Regions from separate parts of the Homo sapiens genome. Here region 2 is linked to region 1. The links come from fine-mapping of genetic effects on gene expression. Tissue or cell type: monocytes after LPS. Region 1 holds a variant in brackets; the other region holds the start of a gene. All regions are shown on one strand. Distances are between the middles of the regions.

Region 1 (5,149 bases):
GTTTATTATTTTATAGTTGTGGAGGTCAGAAGTCTGAAATGGGTGTCACTGAGCTGAAATCCATGTGTCAAGAGCTGTGTTCCTTCCGGAGACTCTAGAGGAGAATCCGTTCCCTTGGCTTTTCCACCTTCTAAAAACACCTGCATTTGTTGGCTCAAGGCCCCTCACTCCATCTTCAAAATTAGAAGCATGGTATCTTCCATTCTCTCTCTGACTCTCCCTTCCTGCCTCCTTCTTGTGATTAAACTGAGCCCACAAGGATAACCCAGGATTGTCTCCTCATTTCAAGATCCTTAACATAATCACATTTGCAAAACCTCTTTGGACATGTATGGTAACATATGCACAGATCTTGGGATTAGGATGTGGACATATTTCGGGGGACATTATTCTGCCTACCATAGACCCTGAGCAGGATGAGCTTGGTTTGGGGGCACAAGGCTAAAACGCAGTTTCCTGTCTCCCTACCAGCTCTGTTCAAAGTAAAACTTGGTACGGGCTGAGGGCTCACTCTCCTTGGTGAGCTGTACTGGCTGCTGGGGCTCTGCCGGGCCACACAGGAACCAGCCAGGCCAGGCAGCAGCCTCAAGCCTGAAGGCGGAGCCTGAGCTGCTCTGGAAGAAGGTGAAGCGTGTGGCCTCTTCACCACCTTTGTACAGTTCCTCAATGTTCACATCCTGTGGGGGCAAGGTGGATGGCTGCAGAATGAGAGTGCTGATGGAGGTGTTAGCCCTGGAGGCCTCTGGGGCTTGGCCAAAAAAGGACCTGACAGGGCTGGTTTTTACCCAAGGGACTGCCTTCTGCAGATTCTAGAGGGCAAGGGTCTTGGTGCTAGGTGCAGAGGGAGATGGTGGAAACCTGAGGAAGTAGGACATGTGGACCTGGCTGGGAATCCACAGATAGGCACAAAGATGCCAGAGCATCCCAGGGGTCAGGCCAGGTCTGCAGTGTCCCCTAGAATGGGGAGAGGCCTCTCACCTCCAGCTGTAGGGAAGGCCCCTCTTCTGTCTCCACACATGCCAGGCAGCGGCTCCCTCCCTGGATCCCCAGGAAAATGGGGACCTTGGTGCGGGCCAAGCCTCTGTTAGGAAGTATGCAGATCTTCTCTAGGAGGGAAGAGAGAGAAGAGTCAAGGGACAAGGGAACCCCATGTTGCAGGCTCTTGGCAGGTAAAGGCTCAGGCAGGAAGGAACTGGACATGGGCACACCTGGCCTGGCCCTGCATGCAGACTGGACGGTGAGCCAGGACTTCTGCAGGAGTCATGTCCCCTCGCTAGGAGAGGCCACAGCTGCTCTCTGGCCCTTCTCACTGTCACTGGGGGCAGCTGCTGACCCTCTGCTGGGGAGGAAAGGGAAGAAGAGAAGGGAGGGCCTATGGCAGATGGAGCATGGGGTGGAGGCCCCAGAAGCTCACCTGCACAGCAGTTGTCTGCAACAGGATCTCCCACCAGCAGCTGGCCATCTCTTGTGTATAGAGCCTTCTGGTCTGCATATTTAATTCTGAAACAGTATGACAGTGCTGATGGCCCATTCCCTTTATGCACCACTGGCCCCCAAGCCCTTCCACTTCCATGCTCTGAATCACCACCTTGAGCATTTGGGCGATTTTCTCTCCTTCACAGGTGGTAAGAGGGGAATGGTCACTCCCAAGAGCAGGTAAAGACCAGGCCAGCCTTAAAGCAAGGAAGGTCTCCTGTGTTCTTGCTTTTCAGAGGCTGTGCTTCCTGCCTTCTCATGGCTTGGGGAGGCCTTCAGAGGAGAACGGAGAGCCAATGCCCTCTGACAGAGGGGTAAAGAAAATGTTCCTGGCTTCCTGAGAAATTTCTTAGTGAGGCTCAGATGACTTTGGGATACAGTGGACCTTATCTTAAATTTTTTGGGCCTGCCCTAATTGTTTATAAATGTTTATTCTCTTTAGTACAGAGATTGAGTGTATACTGAAGTGTGATTTGCTTTTCAGATATTTTAAAGGCTTCAAAGTCATGCAGGGTATTAGCTCAGTCACCTAGTTGGTTTCAAAGATGCCTGTCAGCTGCTGTCAGGGCTGGAGAGCTCTCATTAACCTTTTAGGGCAGAACCTCTGGACAAATTCCACCACCTCCAGGGGATTTTTCTATCTCAATAACAGCTAACGATAATACCCTTAGCTAATGACTGTACATATTTAAAGCAGGTTCACTTGTACAATAAAAATAAACTTCCGGAAAGATCCTGGGCGTG[T/C]TATCTGGCATTCCCCTTGCCACCTTGACAACCCAGATGTGACAACTCACATGCCAGCAGCATTCTATTTGGAGACCAGAACCCAGATTAGATGCCCTGAAGTGCTGACATCTGCTTTGTCATTTATGTGCTTCCTATGTATGTGTCTTGCTTCCCAGCCAGGCTGTCACCTCCTTGAGACCAGGACTGCTCCCCACCCACCTTGTCCAGGACACAGCCCTGGACATTACAGGGTCCATGGGAGGGGCAGAGGAAATGCATCCCAGAGTCCTCTTTGATTTTTCTTATGCCTCACCTCCTTCCTGAAAGGAGCTTATGACAAAATCACAGACAACAAAGTAGTAAAAGATAAGGAAGGATGCAAATCTCAAATGAGATGAAATGTAAGTAAGTGTTAGAAGCCCACACTGGGAGTAAAGGCCACAGGGACCACCATCAAGATGCTGTCATTGAGATTCAAAACTTTCTGACATTTCAGAGAGGCGGATGGAGCAGCACAGAGGACATGAAGTCTGATTCCTGGCTCTGCCTTTTGGTAGCTGTGTGACATGGGGGAAGTTATTTACCCTCTTTGAGCCTCAGCTTCCAGATCTGTAAAATGGGTTTAATAACACTCCACTTACAGACTTTTTGGAACAGAGATGAGGCAGTAGATTGGCTGGCATCTTGCAGACGTTCAGGAAAGAGCTGTTGCTACTGTGGTGATGATGAAGCTTAATTATGGGGCACTTGCAATTTCTAAGGTGAGAAGGAGCCTCATCCTCTGACTCAGCATTCCTTTCCTCTTCCCACCCTGACCCCCTGGCTTGGAAAGCAGGGACATGCCAGGACAACTTACATGTAGTATCTTGCCATGGGGAGGGAACACATTCCTGCAATCAGTGGTGTCTGGTCCTCACTGATGGGGAGGAGAGAAGGGCAGTTAGAAAAGGAGGCTGGGTGAAGCCAGAGGCAGACGTGCTGGGGCTTAGAACCACTCAGCCAAGGGCTGCACGGGTTCCCCAGGCCATTCGTCTATAATTGGCCTGCCAGAATCCACCAAGGCTTCCACCAGCCCAGCAGGCTCCAGGCAGCTCTGCCTCTCCCTGACTGAGGCTATCCGGGAGCAAGTCCAGCCACCAGGGGTGTGAGCCTGGGATGTGTGTGCTTGCGCTGGTTCTGAGAAACTGGAAAACAGATTCCCCCAAATAGCTGAGCCACAACAATTCCCAGCCCTGAGAGTGGGGTGGAGTGTGCTGTAGCCTCCCTCACAGTTGGAGGATAAGCCCAGCTCAAACCCAGTCCCACTGCCCTGTTGGCCAACAGGGCACCACACCCCCGCCCCCATAACTAGCCAAGGGTTAGATAACTAGAGCCCAGAGTGAAAGAAGAGAGCACAACTAGAAGGGGTCTCCAGCAGCAGTGAGGCTGGTGGGGTCTCCCCAGAGAGTTGGAAAACATCATTCCTAGTGACTAGAAGTGCTTGGCCAAGACTGCCGAAAACAGCCCATCCAAACTCCCCCATTCTGTTCCAGATGGAAAATGGCACAGTGAAGATAGTGGCCCTGTATAAATGCCAGGCCACACAGCCTCACATGACTCTGCTCCTTCCCGATGGGTTATCCTGTCCTAGAGCTCTTCCCTAAAATGAACACCCATTGGAAAGGCCAGTCCAGAATTTAGCATGGAAATAAACCCAGAGCTAATCAGGAGTTGGAAATTAGCTCAGGAAAGTAACGCAAGTATGACTAGGGCTGAGGTTTACCGAGTAGATCTGATTCTCACCAAATAAGAAGGGAATAGAGAAGAAAAAATATAAGAAAGCAGAAAATGAGAGAAGAGAAAGGAAGAAGGCAGGTGGAAGAAAGTAATAGGGCTCAGGGAGGAATAGAGAGATGCTGAGGGACCCTGGGGAGGCAGGTGAGAAGGAACAGGTGGGTGCTGAGGATACGGCTTCCAACCACCTCAGCTCTCAAGTTCCAGAAACAGGGCTGTAGCCAAGGTGGCTTTTAGTACTGGGTCTGTCACTGTCACTTTGGACAAGTCATTTTCTGTCCCCAGGCCTTGGGGTATGACTTTGAGACTTAGAGTGAAGGATAATAGGGACTAACAAGTGCAAATTCTGGAGGGATGTTGGTGCTGTGAATGAAAGTCTTAAAGCATTCTGTATACTTTGTGATTGCATGTGTTTCCCTTACTCTTAGGAAAAATAACGGATTGCCCAAATGTTTACTTACAAAAATGTTCACTGCATAATTTTTTACAATAGCAAGAAGTTGAAAAAAATCTGAATTTTCAGTAATAGGTAATTGGCTAAGAAATTATAGCAAAATTCAATAAATAAGGATGTATGTGTTTGTTAAAGATGATATTATAGAAGCTTGTTTTAGGACATAAAAATTTTCAAAATATATTAGGTGAAAAATGCAGATTATAAATCAAGTGTACACTGTAATTCTATTTAAATCCACACATAGAGACACATACATAGAAATGTTACTCGTGTTGTTGCACCACTTACCTATGGCTTTATGAGTAATTTTTTAAACATATCAACATTTTCCTATAATGAACATGAATTTCCTTTGTAGTATCAAGTAAGTTTCAACATTTTTTAAATGAAGTGTTCAGTTAAAGTCATTGGCTCCTAAATGTGCCTGCCCATCTGCATCACCTGGGGGACTCTGTATAATTACTATTTCCTGGGCCGAAGGTTCTAATTCAGTAGGACTTGGAGTGATTCCAGCAATCAGCCATGCTGCTTGGGAACTGGTGTACTTTCATTCCATTCTTCACACTTATTAATAAATATATAAACCACCTGCAGTTCTTGTTAAAATAACAGATTCTGGTTTTTCAGGCCTGGGGTGGGGCCTGAGACTGTACATTTCAAATATGCAACCAGGTGATGTCAATGCTGCTGGTTCCTCCTGGCCAGCACTTTGAGTCC
Region 2 (5,149 bases), 96 kb after region 1:
AGGAGAGATGGTATCAGTTTCCTTTTGAAGTCAGAAAGATTATTTGATTTAGCAGGGCAGTATCCTCAAGTGGATCTGGAAGAGAGCTGAAGAGTGTAATCCCAACTAGACCCACCAAATGGCCAACCCCCATATTCATTCATTCATTCATTCATTCATACCATGTGCCAATCACTGCCCTAGTAAATGAGCAAACACAGAGAGCTAAGCAGACAACAGAGTATGCTCTTGAGATTCTCACGCCTCTGCTTGAGCACATGGAGATGGGGAGCTCCTACATCAAGCAGCCCCTCTGATTCTTGGAGAGCTTGGTCCCTTTTGCAAGTTTTTCCCAATGTGATGCTGAAACCTGCCTTTCTGTGGTATTCACCCATTTAGTCATTTTAGGACACCCTGAAGTCATGCAGAACAAGCTACTAGTCTTCCATAAGACAGGGCTTCAGATGACTGACAGCAGCTTTCCTATTCCCTTGGAGGCTCCTCCACCATCTCTGGCTTCTTCATCTTAGTGGAACCCAAAGTTCTCCCTGACTTCTCTTCCCAATTAGGTGTGAAATTCTCCCCACTCCTGGTGGGCCCCATTGTAAAGTCACACTTTTACAAAAGGCTGATGCCAGCTTCCCAGCCACAGCAGTGCAAACAGTGGGGAAGGCACAGGGTGACCACTCACCTGGGGTCACACTGTCACTTCGTGGAACTGCCACAAGGTTCTGACCCTGAAGGGTCCACACTTGCTGATTCAAATCATTAATAGTCCCAGTAATAGGTTTACACACTGATTTTGGGATAGAGAAAAAAATGAAGAAATATTATAATCAAGGCTGCTTTACTAGACCCAGGAGAAAAGTATCTAACCCAGGCCATTTTGTAAGGAAGGTGTGGGGTTTGCATCCCCAAACTGACAGCACTCACATCACCCATCAGCCTAGCCTTTCTTTCTAGTGAAGTTGTGAGCTCTGGTGAGGAAGGCAAGGGCTACCAAGGGAAGTCACTGGTTTAAGAGGGCAAACTATCAAGACAGAGGGCAATGAGCAGTCTCACAGAACCTGTGTGCCAAGGCCCAGCTACCCTCTTTTGTGCCTACTCTGTGCTTGGCCCCGGTGCTGGGGACTGGAGCTGGATCAGTGACTAAGCAATAGCTCCCACCCTCCAGAAGCCCAGGGCCCAGTGGTAGGTGGGCAGCACCAGGTGGGAAGGGCAGTGTACAGAGAGGAGCAGAGAAGGCTGGGGCTTCCACAGGAGATAGCGTGAGTGCAGAGGGCCTAAGCCTCCAGAGCCCCATCCCAACAGCATTTGATTCACTTGATTGATAGACGGCCCTTCCTCCACCATCAGCGTCTCCTGGAGTGCCTCTCATAGTGTGGTTGTCTCAGCACCTGTGAAAGCAGACATAGAACAGATGAACCACAAGAGATGTTTCCAAGACCTTCCAGGACACTAGCTCCACAGGCCCTCATTCTAGACAGGGAGCTGGGAAACCTGGCCTGACACGAAGCTCTGGGCAGAAGTTCTGAGCCACATCTGGGACGAAACTTGAAGGAAGCATCAGCAAAGGGAGAACAGGTAGAATTTTCCTCCACCTGGAGATCCAGATAGTATGGTAGTGTCTCCCCTAGGAGTTCGAAGGCCAGGCATAAAATTTGACCTTAAATAACCCACAGGCACCTGATGCCCTGACTCCTCTTCTCTGAAGCCTCCACCCCTTCATCGGCATTGTTTTTGCCTAGGAGCAGGGGAGGGTCCCATGCCAGGGCCACTCTGCCAGGATCCCAGCAACTCCCCAGTAAGAAGCAGCCACACATAGGACAAAGCACAGAGCCAGCCTGATGTGGCCCTTCCCTTCATTAAGCCCAAAGCACAGATGAGAGGAAAGGCTCCAGAGGGAGGGAGAAGAGGTTTTCCAGCTATTGACTATACCTGGCAAGAAAGGGTCTTTATCTACAGTCCAGGGGACTGAATCGTGGCTCCAGCAGCTTCCAAGGTCAGTGATGGGTTCTAATGGAGCCTGGATCATTTATCTGGATGAGCAGAGAAGGAGGCTCCAGCTTCCTGGGTGGGGCATGAGAAACGTATGACATGAAAGAAAACCAGCTCCTCCTACCAGAAGATCCTGTGAGGCTCGGAGGAAGAAATCACAGAATTAGCACAAGTATCACCTGTCCGGGCTCGCTGAGAAATAAGTGTTGAGCCAATCCGCACAAAATCAACCACAAGGAAATGAGGTTGATGACAGATCCTAGGTTTCTCATAAAGGGGAAACTAAGGGAATTTCCCAGAGTTCAGCTCTCCTGTCATGTCATTCTAGAGCTAGAACTGGAAATGCCAGGCACTCTCATGTCAGGGACTCCATCTCCTGGGACTGGGAGCCTTGCCCTCTGCAGTCAGGCTAAAGGCATCCTGTAAGAGCAAAATTAGCCACACGTCTCAGGCAAGGTCCCTGTGGCATTTCTCAACTACCCCACCTAAGGCCACACCTGAATGGAAAGCCAGGCAGTAGAGCTCCCCTACCTAACACTCTTTCAGCTCCATCCACATGGGGAGCCACAGGGACTATGCAGACTGGTCTTTTAACTGAGGCAATCCTAGTTTCAGGTACCCTCAAAATGCAGTGGACTCCAGAACTGCCTAAGGAAGTAAAGAGGTGGGCAGCGATTTCTCCCAAATCTGAGCCCCAGATGCCAGCTTATCCCCCACCCTCTGCCCTAGGTTCCTGATCAGTGGTAATAGTTATTTTTATATCTTGTTTATACACCCCATCCTATCTGCTGTAGCCAAGCCTAAAAATTTACTGAGGTATAAGTTAACTACTAGAGTGAAGTGAGTTTTAGGAGACAGACTTGAAGCACTAACAGCTTCAGGTTTACCCATCTATAAGGAAGAAAAGCACAAAGAATGAGACAGAACCTTCCAGATAAGCTCATCCATGAGCCCCTCTTCCCAGCCCTGCAAAGAGTCTCCTGACTCAACGTCTCTTACTTTTCACCCTAATCTCCTTTCTGGCCTTGGAAGAACACAGTCCTTTCCTGCCATGGCCCCAATTCTATCACTTTTGGCTTCCAGTGTTTCTGTGACCCTAGGAAAGAGTGTGGTAATGCCAGGTGCACTTTTGTTCAAAGTCAACCTGAGCCAGTGCCACCTCACTTGAGTCTCCATTGCCCTGTTAAAAATCCCCTCCATTACACATCAGTCAACATAACTCCTTTCTTGGGATGTTCACCACAAAACAGCATCTAAAATTCCCATCATTTGACCCCCCAAATCCCTTAAGCCTGAATTTCCAACTGGGATCCCTCTGAAAGCAGAATCCATGCTAGGAATTGCAAACAAAGGGAATTGAATAAAAGGAACTAGATACACGTGTGTTGGAAAGCCAAAGAAGATTAAGGGATTGCTGTGGTATCTCAGATAGTAACAACTACAGGAAGGAAACAAAAGGGAACAAAAGAACCTAGGTCTCAAAGGAGCGCTTTTGTAGGACTTATCCCCAGATATGAGTCGGAGGTGAGGCGTTCTCTGCCAAATTGATGCTCAGACCTCTGAAAAGAGAGTACAGTCTGGTCAATGCTTGGAGCATGAAGGTGGAGGGGAGGGGTCAAGAAGAGGATGCTCAGAGGACTCACAGGACACAGCTCTAACAGCTGAATTTTCTTTGGTTCAAAAGCCTGTGGGTACAGCTAGAACTTCCCACGCCCAGATGAAGGTTGCAAAAACTATAAAAGAGGGTGACATGTGTCCTCTTCAGCCTCCGCCCTCATTCCACTTGGTCCTGACCCTTCAATAGATTCCAAGCACTCAGAGAATCCAGCCCTTCCTAGAATTCCCAGCACTCAGCATCCATCCTGAAGTCCCTAGTTTAACTGTTAGTGTGAATAAGTATCAGAGAAATTGGAGGGAGTAGGAGTGATGATGATAAAAGGGGAGAACTGAATCACTGGGGTTGATCAGTAAAGAGCAGAGATCACATCTACTGAAGAAATGGCCCCGAACGTTTATCTTAAAGTGGAAGGGATGGATGTTATAATTACATGATACCCTGGCTGTACTTGAGAAAACCATCAATATTGATTCTGGTTATAAAAAGTAAAGAACATAGCGTTGCTATATTTTATTTATTACCATTGATTGTTTTATTTATTATCAACGATTTATTATCATGGAGAACAATGACAATGATGCTTATCATTAAGTGTGGCTTGAATTTAATTACCATAAGTACTGACAAGGCCAAATTCCCTAGATATGAAAATGATTTTAAGAAAACACTTAGTCCAGATTCTAATTTCCAAGCTCTATGACACTGTCAATCTACATTCATTTGGTAATAAGCCCTGCTACTAGTTTGTTCACTTAACATGCTCATTACCTTATTAAGTTGAGGGAATATCAATGAAATGCAGGTAGGGTAAGAGAACTTGATTACTGACCACCACTACAATCTCTAGAATCTCTACAACACCTTTTTCATGAAACCAGGCACACAATCATAACAAAGCAGAGGGAGCCATGGAGCAGTAAAGGTTATTCAGCCCCCACCATTGCCAACCATAAAAAAAATCACCTTAGTAGTAAAATTAAACTTAGAATCTATAACTCCGGACTCCAAATGCAGAGCTCTCTGCTGGAGTCATAGGTCCTCCTTGGGGCCCCCAAAGAGGACCAAAGCCATGTGGCCTATTACCTATCAAGGGCTATCTACAAGCAGGCTGGCAACCTGGCCTGAAGATTGCCACTGGAAAGAAGTTGGCATTCATCTCGCTTAAATTGGTGGGGCAACATGGTGTGTACCATGAACCACAGAGACCAGTGTGGGGCCATTTGTACTCTAGTGGACTTGGGAAAATGCCAAGGAAGCTCTTGGCATAGGCTCTGTGGTAAAGCCTTTACCCAACGTAGATGGAATGATGTGCATGGACATGGCCGAAAGCCTCTGCTCCTCCACATAGCCCAAGCCCATTATCAAAGACTTGCTTCCTATGAGCTGATCCATTACATCTTCCTGAAGCTGGTTTCTATGAAACCCCAGACTTTGGCACATAGGCCAACACGCTATTTAAATGAAGGACAGAGTAACAAAAATAACCCCAAAGCTACACATCAAAATGGCAGTAATAAATAGAAACATTAAAAGAGTTAAGACTAAAGAACCAAA

Which allele goes with the higher level. Alleles are on the strand shown, and positions count from the first base shown. SD is a standard deviation of normalised expression in the study named.
For the expression in monocytes after LPS of the gene that starts at base 1,990 in region 2, T is the high allele of the variant in region 1 and C is the other (large effect, 1.1 SD a copy in Fairfax 2014).

The links. PIP is the estimated chance that this variant, and not a neighbour inherited with it, causes the effect.
Region 2: it holds the start of IL36G, and the variant in region 1 is fine-mapped to the expression of IL36G in monocytes after LPS (Fairfax 2014, PIP 0.95).

Annotation. Positions count from the first base shown.
Region 1 is chr2:113,070,680-113,075,828 of GRCh38, reverse strand. It overlaps IL1F10 (interleukin 1 family member 10), which reads right to left. Exons shown (of 5, transcript NM_173161.3): 2 at 3,059-3,118; 3 at 1,415-1,500; 4 at 979-1,106; 5 at 1-677. The coding sequence starts at 3,090. The coding sequence ends at 465. Among named protein-coding and RNA genes, the nearest start is that of IL1F10, 5.3 kb to the right of the region's middle. The variant T/C (reference allele first, on the strand shown) is at 2,221.
Region 2 is chr2:112,974,847-112,979,995 of GRCh38, reverse strand. It overlaps IL36G (interleukin 36 gamma), which reads right to left and starts at 1,990. Exons shown (of 5, transcript NM_019618.4): 1 at 1,918-1,990; 2 at 1,303-1,376; 3 at 671-775. The coding sequence starts at 1,357.